Regions from separate parts of the Homo sapiens genome. Here regions 1 and 3 are each reported to be linked to region 2. The links are microRNA targets in miRTarBase. Many come from high-throughput screens and were not tested one by one. Region 2 holds a microRNA gene; each other region holds the end of a gene's coding sequence.
What was found. The annotated mature microRNA hsa-miR-708-5p reads AAGGAGCUUACAAUCUAGCUGGG and lies in region 2 at 982-1,004, opposite strand. An mRNA with a match to its seed (bases 2 to 7 or 8) in the 3' UTR can be bound and repressed. Matches are read on the target gene's strand: a 7mer-m8 pairs with bases 2 to 8, a 7mer-A1 pairs with bases 2 to 7 and ends in A, and an 8mer does both.

Region 1: the mRNA of SEC14L1 is a reported target of hsa-miR-708-5p. Seed matches in the 3' UTR shown: 7mer-m8 at 1,899-1,905.
Region 3: the mRNA of TMEM88 is a reported target of hsa-miR-708-5p. The part of its 3' UTR that is shown has no 7-base or 8-base seed match.

What each region holds. Positions count from the first base shown.
Region 1 is chr17:77,213,774-77,216,906 of GRCh38, forward strand. It overlaps SEC14L1 (SEC14 like lipid binding 1), which reads left to right. Exons shown (of 17, transcript NM_001143998.2): 17 at 145-3,133. The coding sequence ends at 250. Among named protein-coding and RNA genes, the nearest start is that of LACAT1, 38 kb to the right of the region's middle.
Region 2 is chr11:79,401,096-79,404,228 of GRCh38, forward strand. MIR708 (microRNA 708) reads right to left here and starts at 1,014; the gene lies at 927-1,014. The region is part of intron 1 of TENM4 (teneurin transmembrane protein 4); the gene reads right to left.
Region 3 is chr17:7,855,155-7,858,180 of GRCh38, reverse strand. It overlaps TMEM88 (transmembrane protein 88), which reads right to left. Exons shown (of 2, transcript NM_203411.2): 1 at 2,897-3,026; 2 at 2,082-2,736. The coding sequence ends at 2,467. It overlaps NAA38 (N-alpha-acetyltransferase 38, NatC auxiliary subunit), which reads left to right and starts at 622. Exons shown (of 3, transcript NM_001320925.4): 1 at 622-798; 2 at 983-1,166; 3 at 1,338-1,496. The coding sequence starts at 718. The coding sequence ends at 1,450. CYB5D1 (cytochrome b5 domain containing 1) reads right to left here and starts at 178. Exons shown (of 4, transcript NM_144607.6): 1 at 1-178. The coding sequence starts at 46. RefSeq lists enhancers at 1-62, 1-87, 416-710, 438-807, 63-925 and 2 more.

The sequences.
Region 1 (3,133 bases), not on the chromosome of region 2:
ATGTCCATCCCCCGTTTGCAAGCACTGATGGGGATGAGAAGTGAGCAGAGAACAGGGTGGGCCACGAAGTCCAGCAGGCAGTGTGGGCCGGCGGGTGGTTGGCAGGGTGGTCCTCACGCCTCGCCCCTCCCTGTGCCATTACAGAGGTTCCATGACGAGCCTGGAGTCCAGCCACAGCGGCTTCTCCCAGCTGAGTGCCGCCACCACCTCCTCCAGCCAGTCCCACTCCAGCTCCATGATCTCCAGGTAGTGCCGCGCTGCCTGCACCTAGTGTGCAGAGGGGACGGCCGCCCCTCCTCGGACAGCCAGCTGCACCCGCCCACCCAGCGGCGACATTGTACAGACTCCTCTCACCTCTAGATAGCAAATAGCTCTCAGATGGTAAACGTAGTCGTTTGATCCCAAAACTACCTTGGCAGGTAGTTTTAACTCTGATCCTAACTTAACTCAATAGCCATAGATTTTGTATACGTTGTGCACAAAATCCAACCAGAGCGCAAGGGCTCTCTTGAAAGAAAAGTAGTTTCTGTACCAATTAAAGGATTGACGTGGTCTCAGATATTGATGCAAAAAATTTTTCCAACGAACTCCGCATTGTCCATTAGTGAATGAATTCCTGTGACATCCTCCAGAGATGGCCCCTCCTCACCTGGGACGGAAGCTGCCAGCTCGCTTCCCCCAAGCTGCCTCATGGCCCGCACGCCGCCTCACGGCCCCCATGCTTCCCGCCAGTCAAGATGGTCTGTGGACTTAGGGCCAGCCCTTGAGGTCCTTATCCTCTGAGGATTCAGAGGTTGCCTGCGGAGTACCTTGTCCCAGGGCCAGACACACCCACACCACCCACTGTCCTGCAGTGGGGCCGGGGGCTCAGGAGGGGCTCTCAGGGACTCCTGGTGACTCCAGGAAAATGCTGCCATCGTTAAACATTACTTTCTCTTTCCTCCTTTTCAAATCTTTTTGATACTTTTTAGAGCAGGATTTTTCTGTATGTGAACTTGGGTGGGGGGGTTCTTCCCGTTTCCTTCCGTGCGTCGCCCCTCTCACCTGCAGTCAGCTCCCAGCCCAGTGTAGGCCATCTCCTCTGTGCCCTCTGGTGGCTCATTGTCCTCAGAGCCCAGACAGTTCCAGCCACTAGGAGGCCGTCTTGGAACCAGCAAGTCGCATTTGCCACTTGACACTGTCCATGGGGTTTTATTAGTAGCTAAGCAGCAGCTCTCGCATCCACTTCAGGGTGGCGTGTGGCATGTAGGAGTCCTGCTTCTTTGTACATGGGAATTGTGGACTCATGCGTGTGTGTGTGTGCATGTGCTGTGTGTGTGCATGTGTGCATGACGGTGGGGGTGCTGGGGGGACGGGGTGAGTGGAAACTTAGTTTGAGTAATGAAGGAATCTTCACAGAAGCAAATCAGAATATGGGATTTGTTTGCCTTTTACATTTTGTTTAATTCCTGATTTTAAAGCCTGCTCTATCTGGTACAGGCCCTTATTTTTTCAGCTTTTTATGGGAAAAGCAGGTTATTTGAGAATCTGTCCAGAAGTTGCATAGGGGATGGCCTCCACGATAAGGACATGCAACACGTGTTTCTGTGTGCAGCAGAGGCCGTGTTTTTCATGCCAAACCCCACGCGGCTGTCAACTGTGTGCGTGGTAGGCATGGAGATCCTGGTTGTGCCGTCTCAGCTCCGCTCTGAAGGCACTGTGTGGGTGCTGCGTGACTGGAGAGCTGTGTGGAGGCCATGTGTGCCCCGTGCAGGGATCAGGAGGGCGGGGGAGGGACCGAGCAGCCCTCTTGCCCGGTCGGGTCAGCCCTAGTGGCTGCCTGCACACTGTAGACGTCCCAGGGCCTGTGCTGTGATCACCTGCCTTTGGACCACATTTGTGTTTGCTCTTAGAGATCGAGCTCCTCAGTGGTACCTGAAGCCTTTGCTTCCGGAAAGCGCGGTAGGGTTCGTAGGTAGGGCTAGTAGGTAGGGTTAGTAGGTAGGGCTAGTAGGTAGGGCTAGTAGGTAGGGTTCGTAGGTAGGGTTCGTAGGTAGGGCTGGTAGGTAGGGTTAGTAGGTAGGGCTAGTAGGTAGGGTTAGTAGGTAGGGTTCGTAGGTAGGGTTCGTAGGTAGGGTTCGTAGGTAGGGCTAGTAGGTAGGGTTAGTAGGTAGGGTTCGTAGGTAGGGTTCGTAGGTAGGGTTAGGTAGGGTTCGTAGGTAGGGTTAGTAGGTAGGGCTAGTAGGTAGGGTTCGTAGGTAGGGTTCGTAGGTAGGGCTAGTAGGTAGGGTTAGTAGGTAGGGCTAGTAGGTAGGGCTAGTAGGTAGGGTTAGTAGGTAGGGCTAGTAGGTAGGGTTCGTAGGTAGGGTTAGTAGGTAGGGCTAGTAGGTAGGGTTCGTAGGTAGGGTTCGTAGGTAGGGCTAGTAGGTAGGGTTAGTAGGTAGGGCTAGTAGGTAGGGCTAGTAGGTAGGGTTCGTAGGTAGGGTTCGTAGGTAGGGTTCGTAGGTAGGGTTCGTAGGTAGGGTTAGTAGGTAGGGTTCGTAGGTAGGGCTAGTAGGTAGGGCTAGTAGGTAGGGCTAGTAGGTAGGGTTAGTAGGTAGGGCTAGTAGGTAGGGCTAGTAGGTAGGGCTAGTAGGTAGGGCTAGTAGGTAGGGTTCGTAGGTAGGGTTCGTAGGTAGGGTTCGTAGGTAGGGTTAGTAGCGCGTCTGTGCTGCTTCCACCTGGTGCTTCCTGTTCCCAAATCACAAGGGCCTGAAGGTGGTCCCTGCTTTCTCTTTCTCTTTCTCTGTGTCTCAGATGGCGATTTTGCTGACAGCTGCCAAGAAAATGCTTCACTCAACAGTCCTCATGTGCCCAGAGATGTTTATAGAACTGTTTGAATTGCAGCCATCCCCTGCCCCCTCCCAGGCTGAAGATCTGTTCTTTTTAAGTTGATTCGGGAGTGGCATTCTTTTATACCCAAAGACTGTAGTGCATCTTGAAGAGCTCAAAGCACATGACCGCACAAATGCTTACAGGGTTTCCTCCCGAGTAATCCAATCTCACTCCCCTTGTAAGGGAATTCTGGGGCAGCTATGGTTTGAGTATGCAGTTTGCATCGTGTTTCTACCTTTAGTACCTTGCCACTCTTTTAAAACGCTGCTGTCATTTCCCA
Region 2 (3,133 bases):
GATCTTGGGGACAGGAAATAATACAAGGGATCCATGGAGGTATAACATTTGAGAATTCTGGTGTCCTTCACCTTTTTGTTTTCCTGCCTCCTTCCCTCCCTCTCTTCCTTTAAAGAACAAGCATGTATTGAGCAGTTATGTATGCAAGCCTTGTGCTAGGCACTGGAAATGAGAGATGAATAACCATGATTCCTGCCCTCTCGGAGCTCACAGACTAATGGAAGAGCCGATTTACAGAAAGAACACAGTGCAACAAGTTCCCCAACAGGGTAAGCACACGTGCTGAGGCTGTCTAACCCCGGAGCCTCAGACTCTTTGAGATGCAAAGGAATAAACAATAATTCCCAGAAAAGGTGACACTCAAATGGAGACCTGTCAATCATTTTTATTAGGCATTTTTGCTGGTTACAAAAGTAATAAATACTTTTTGCAGGAGATTTGGAAAGCACAAGGGTGTCAGAAAAAGAAAACGTCAATCATTATTTTACCATTAGAGGCAACCACTAATACATTCTGAAGCATTTCTCTTTCCATCTATGTACTTAACATCAATGAGTTCATCATGTCTATACATTTGATAGGCTCCCCAGTTTACTTAACATTGAAACATAAGCACTTTTCCATCAAGCTCAGTCCAAATGAGTGACCCCTGGATCTTTGATCTGGGGGACCAAGTCCAGGAGCCTGGAAGCCAGGGCTGGCCCAGAGGAGATATGACAAGCTGGGTTTTGGTGAGCAGGTTGAGTTGGCAGTGCTGTGGAGCATTCCACCCGGGGAGGAACACTGAAGATGCTGGAGAGCTGGGTGTGGCACTCAGGAGACAATTCAGGCCTAGAGGGTCCTCAGGTGGTGGTTGACGCCATGGGGATGGATGAGATCCCTCAGGGAGGGTGTGCAGGGTGAGAAGAGAGATGACTAGGGTAAGGTCCCTGCCCTCTAGAAGCTCACAGTCTAGTTGTGTTCATGTGCAAGTCATTTACCCCCAGCTAGATTGTAAGCTCCTTGAGGGCAGTTACCATTTCACACACAGCAGTCCCTCGCCAACCATGGGGGTTAGGTTTCTGAAAACCCCTGGGGCAGGAGAAGTCAGGCTTCAGGAATTTAGGACCTTATTGGGGAAAAAATAGGGTTAGGGGAATGAAGTCACCAGTGAACTTGTAAAATTATTATATTTTTACATAATGAGAAATGACAATGACAACATATTCAAAACACTGAATATCAGTGACACAAATTATCAACATATTCTTCAATTAACAACATTTTACAACTTATTTTCATGTACCATCTATCCCTTTAGTAGAGCTTGCCCCTTCACAGCTACAACAATATGCTTGTAAATTCACTTTTGCATTGCTGGAAAAAATACACTTGCTAAGAGTCCTTTTCTTATGTGTGGTTTCCCATCCAATTATTCAATGCATTTTGGTTTTTATAACTCCAGGCTACTGACACCTGTCTCTTGGTCCCACCCACAAGTGCAAGCACACACCTACATCCTAACAGGTAGGAGTGTGTTTCTGAGGTCTGATCCACCCCCTCCCACTCTCCTCTCTTCCCCAATTTTACTACAAACACCTCTCCTCTGCAGCCATTTCACCTACTTCCCTCTTCCCCAACCTCTGGGCAGATTTCATCAGTTCCCCCATAGGAATGAGCAAAGACTCCTGACCTTGGGATTCTCCAAGGCTTCTGACAAAGTATGCAAACATGAAGTTGTCAATATTAGAATTTGGTGTCTTTCTTTGGTAGACACTAGCATATCATTCACTCACTAGCTCATAGTAGGTACTCAATAAATTCTTGTTGAACTGAGCAATTTCCAAAGTAAAGGATGTGGACTTTTTTTTCTCTTTCCCCATTCACTGCTCCAAATGAATATTAAACCTTCACACAACATAAATATTGAAATATTTGTAGGCACATTTTATTTTCCCTTCTGGCAGGTCATGATGACAAGAGGCAGCTAATAGATGCAATCTATCTGCATTCACGAAGGCAGTTTTGAGTTCCACATGACATGCTGTCAATAGAGTCAAAAGATATGGCCCTTTAGTGAAGGAATTCTCCATATTTTCCAGCTCAGACCACTTGGATAAAGGAAAACACCTACTAACCAACGATTCTCCCATGCACATTTATGACAAAAAGGTTGTCGCCATGACTAAATGGGAGGACTAGCACTGTTTTTCATGAGATATCAACAAAACCATGTCTTTTAAATGAAACAATAATCAGTTACATTTATACAGCACTTTACATTTTACAAATGCTTTCAGGTACATTTTTATCTCACTTTTTCTTCACAGCAACTCTGCGAGGTAGTCAGAGAAGGCACTGATAGTTCCATTTTGCAGATGAAGAAACTGAGGCTTACTCTAAGGAAGGGACCAAAAGGGGCAACTCACTAGTCAAATTTGATACCCTTTCCATCTCCCATCACTGTTCTGTTGCCAGTTGGGTTACAATGAAAAACACAAAACTAAATTGCAATGCTGTTCCACTGTCATGTAATTGCCAGTGCCCAAGAGGTAGCCCACCCCTCGACACTCACATTCTCCCATTCCTCCCACCCCCAGTTGTCTTCCCTCAACCACTATCCACTCCACAAGTCAGTACCCAGACTGGCACATGAAGAATCTGAGTCAGTACCAGAAATGGCATTCAGCACTTCATGCATAGAAGCAAAGCTATGAGGCCAAAAAATCCGGGGGGTTGAGGGGGGTGGTGGGGGTGGTTCACCAGTCTTATCTCATTTAATCCTCTGCAAAATACTCACAATGATCACCCTTTCAAAGATGCAGAAACTGAGGCTCATCATGTGTATTAGCTTGGCCATGGTCACATGCCCAGAGAATGACAGTCAGCATTTGAACCCAGCTTCAGTTCCTGGACAGCAGGGCAGTCCCAAGAAAGCACTTCACTGGCTCAGAGCCACATGTGTTCCATTTCAGCCTCCCAGCTCAGAAGGACCTTGACCCTCCGCTGAAGCTGCTGCCCTCATGGCAAAGCTTCTTACAAAGGGTCCTCATCTGGACTAAAGCTGGATCACCTGACATAATAATTAAGCCCCAAACAGCCCCAAATCCTTTGTGGAAAAGAAAATCTGCTTTTTAAATGAATTCACACAGAC
Region 3 (3,026 bases), not on the chromosome of region 2:
GAAAATACTCCAAGTCTGGCCCAGCCACCAGGCCCCGGCGCGGCATGGCTCTTGCTCTGTCGGTCACTGGATCTCTTGGTTACTCCTTTGCTCCTCAGCACGTACTCACTACTACTACGACCTCCGTCGCGTCCGGGAGCCGAGGGGAGAGCGTTTATCCGCTGACATGGAAACCATTGTCCTTTTCCGGCCACCGTCCACTGAGATAAATATCAGGGGCGGGGTTTGGACTGCACGTGTTCACGGGAAACGTAGTATGAGTCCCGCGTGGGGCATATAAGGATCAAGTAATTGAGTTGCGCCGCTTTCAGGAGTTGCGGGGTGGGGCAGAGAACGAATACGCTCCGTTTTAATTCAGTGGCCTGGGCTACATGGGATATTTAGGACAGACTATCTCTCTGAGACAGAAAAACAAGGGAGGAGGCAGTATGAAAGAATGTATTCTCGCTAAATTCCAGTTTCTAAAGGATGTGTAAGAAACCAGAGGTAAAGGTCTCGCGATATCTTAAGACATCCGGCGTAGTACGCTTCAGTGAGCCACAGCGCTAGAGAAGTAGGAGAAGCTCGCGAGATCTGTGCCGTTGCCGAGGAGACTAGGAGGGGGAGGAGAGGGGATCTCGCGAAAGGAAAGAGGTCGGGAGCGCTCGCGAGATCTCGGACCACCCAACCTGAAAGGTGCTTAGGAAGTTGAAAGGCCCAGAGGAGGCCTCCGGGCAAATGGCCGGAGCTGGACCGACCATGCTGCTACGAGAAGAGAATGGCTGTTGCAGTCGGCGTCAGAGCAGCTCCAGTGCTGGGGTTAGCACGGGCTCTGGTTCTGGGACTGAGGGGCAGTCAAGCAGCAAGATGGAGGGGGTGGGGAACTGCAGCTCCCGGCAGCCTCTGGGCTTTGTGTGAGTGCCCCGCGGGCTGCCGGGAGCTGTGGTTCCGCGGGCGGGCAGCCTGGGCTGCGCGGTCTGAGCGCTTGTTACACCCCGCGCAGGATTCGGACGGAGAGCGCGAGGACTCGGCGGCTGAGCGCGCCCGACAGCAGCTAGAGGCGCTGCTCAACAAGACTATGCGCATTCGCATGACAGATGGACGGACACTGGTCGGCTGCTTCCTCTGCACTGACCGTGACTGCAATGTCATCCTGGGCTCGGCGCAGGAGTTCCTCAAGCCGTCGGGTCAGTGCCCGGGGAATGCACACCCGCCTGGTAATGTGGCGGAACCTTACGCAAGGCATTTCCCCTTAAGGGCCTGGCTGCAACCCTTGTTTTCTGGGGCTCGTTTTCGTGGCTCAGAGGGGCGGGACTGATTCTGGCCTACTTTCCTGATGCTCTGATCCTTCTTTCCAGATTCCTTCTCTGCCGGGGAGCCCCGTGTGCTGGGCCTGGCCATGGTACCCGGACACCACATCGTTTCCATTGAGGTGCAGAGGGAGAGTCTGACCGGGCCTCCGTATCTCTGACCACGATGGCGCTTACCTTTCAGACTTCATTAAACTTATGACCGAATGGGCCTGTGTCTGTGTGTAGCTGGGATGCCGGTGCAGGATAGCACACCCCATCCCTAGAGGAAAGGGCTCATCTGAAGTCGGGAGCACCCTCAACCCTCCTCTCCCAACCAAGATGTCCAGGGGTGCCAAAGGTTCTCTCAAGTTCAGGGGTAGAGATGGGGGGCAGGGCTGAATGACGGACCAACAGGCCCCAGGGTGGGCCCCTGCATCTTCCCTCCCACGGCTGCTGCTCCAGAATTGTGGCGGGAGGGGGTGTCATCCTGCTCCGGAAGGCCCATTGTTTCCCACCCCGGCCTGGCAACACCGAGTTCCTCTAAGCTGGGGTCAGAGAACGGGCTCAGGTCCCCAAGGGGAGCAGCGGCAGGCGGCCGAGGCTGGGCCCCTCCACTCTATTGAGGGGGAGGTGCCTGGGGTCAGGAACAGATCTCTGAGGTCTGGCCAGGAAGAACGGACAAAAGCGATAAGGCCAGGGGGCTCAAGGATGCTCCTCTCTGCTCATTTGTAGCCCTGGCACATGTTTCCTGTTCCTCGGCACAGGGCAGGGGTGATAGTACTTGTGCCACGCCTCTGTTCGCAGAGCGCGTTCAGTTCGTTAAATCTTTATTGATGCGTGGACACTCCTTCCCCTCCAGCCCCGCCCCCCAGCCCCAGAAATACTAGAGAAGCTGCACCATAAAACGAGGGCACGAGATTGTTGTCCCATTCACGACGGAGCTGAGGGGGAGGTGTGCAGGTTCCAGCCTAGATGTTCAGGATTGAGATGTGGGTCGTGAAAGGAAAGTGGGTTTTCCGGGATGTGGGGGCTTTTCTCAGCACTGGGTCCACTGACGCTGCTGCTCCCAAGGGGATGCTAGGACTCCGCTCAGGCAGGGGTGGGGGCAGGGCAGGTCGGAAGATGCCGGGCTTCAAGTCCTTGGGCCGAATAAGAGGGAGGGCAGCCGTCAGGGTTGTTCTTGACTCGAGGGTCATTAGACCCAGACCTTTCCTGATGTGGGAACGGCCTGGGACCCTGGTGAGGCCCGGATTTGCCGCGGCTGCGGGGCGCGCCGACGCCGATAAAGGGCTCGGCTGTAGGGCACGAGGCAATCGGCTAGGCGGAGGCGCAGGCAGAGGCGGCGGTAGCTGGCCAGAGCAAGCACGAGCAGCGGCACGAGGAGCAGGAATCCGGTGACCAGTAGGGCCGTGAAACCGGGGTCCCGCAGGTGCGCGGTGCAAGGGGGTGCCTGGGAGCGCAGGAACTGTGGGAGAAGAGGCGTCAGGCCCAAGCCGACCAGGCGATACTGTGCACGGGGTGGAAACAGCCCAGGCGGGTTGAAGTTGTGGCCCATAGACCCCACCGCCAGCATCACCACACACCAACACTCACACTCACACGCACACCCCGGGGCGCACGCTCACCTGAGAGTGGCAGAGGAAGCCGAAGCCCAGCATGGTGACAGCGGGTAGCAAGATGGTCCCTAGCACCAGCACCAGCAGGAGAAGATTGAAGGCAGCCACCAGCAGATTCTGGGCTGTTACAAGAACAGCG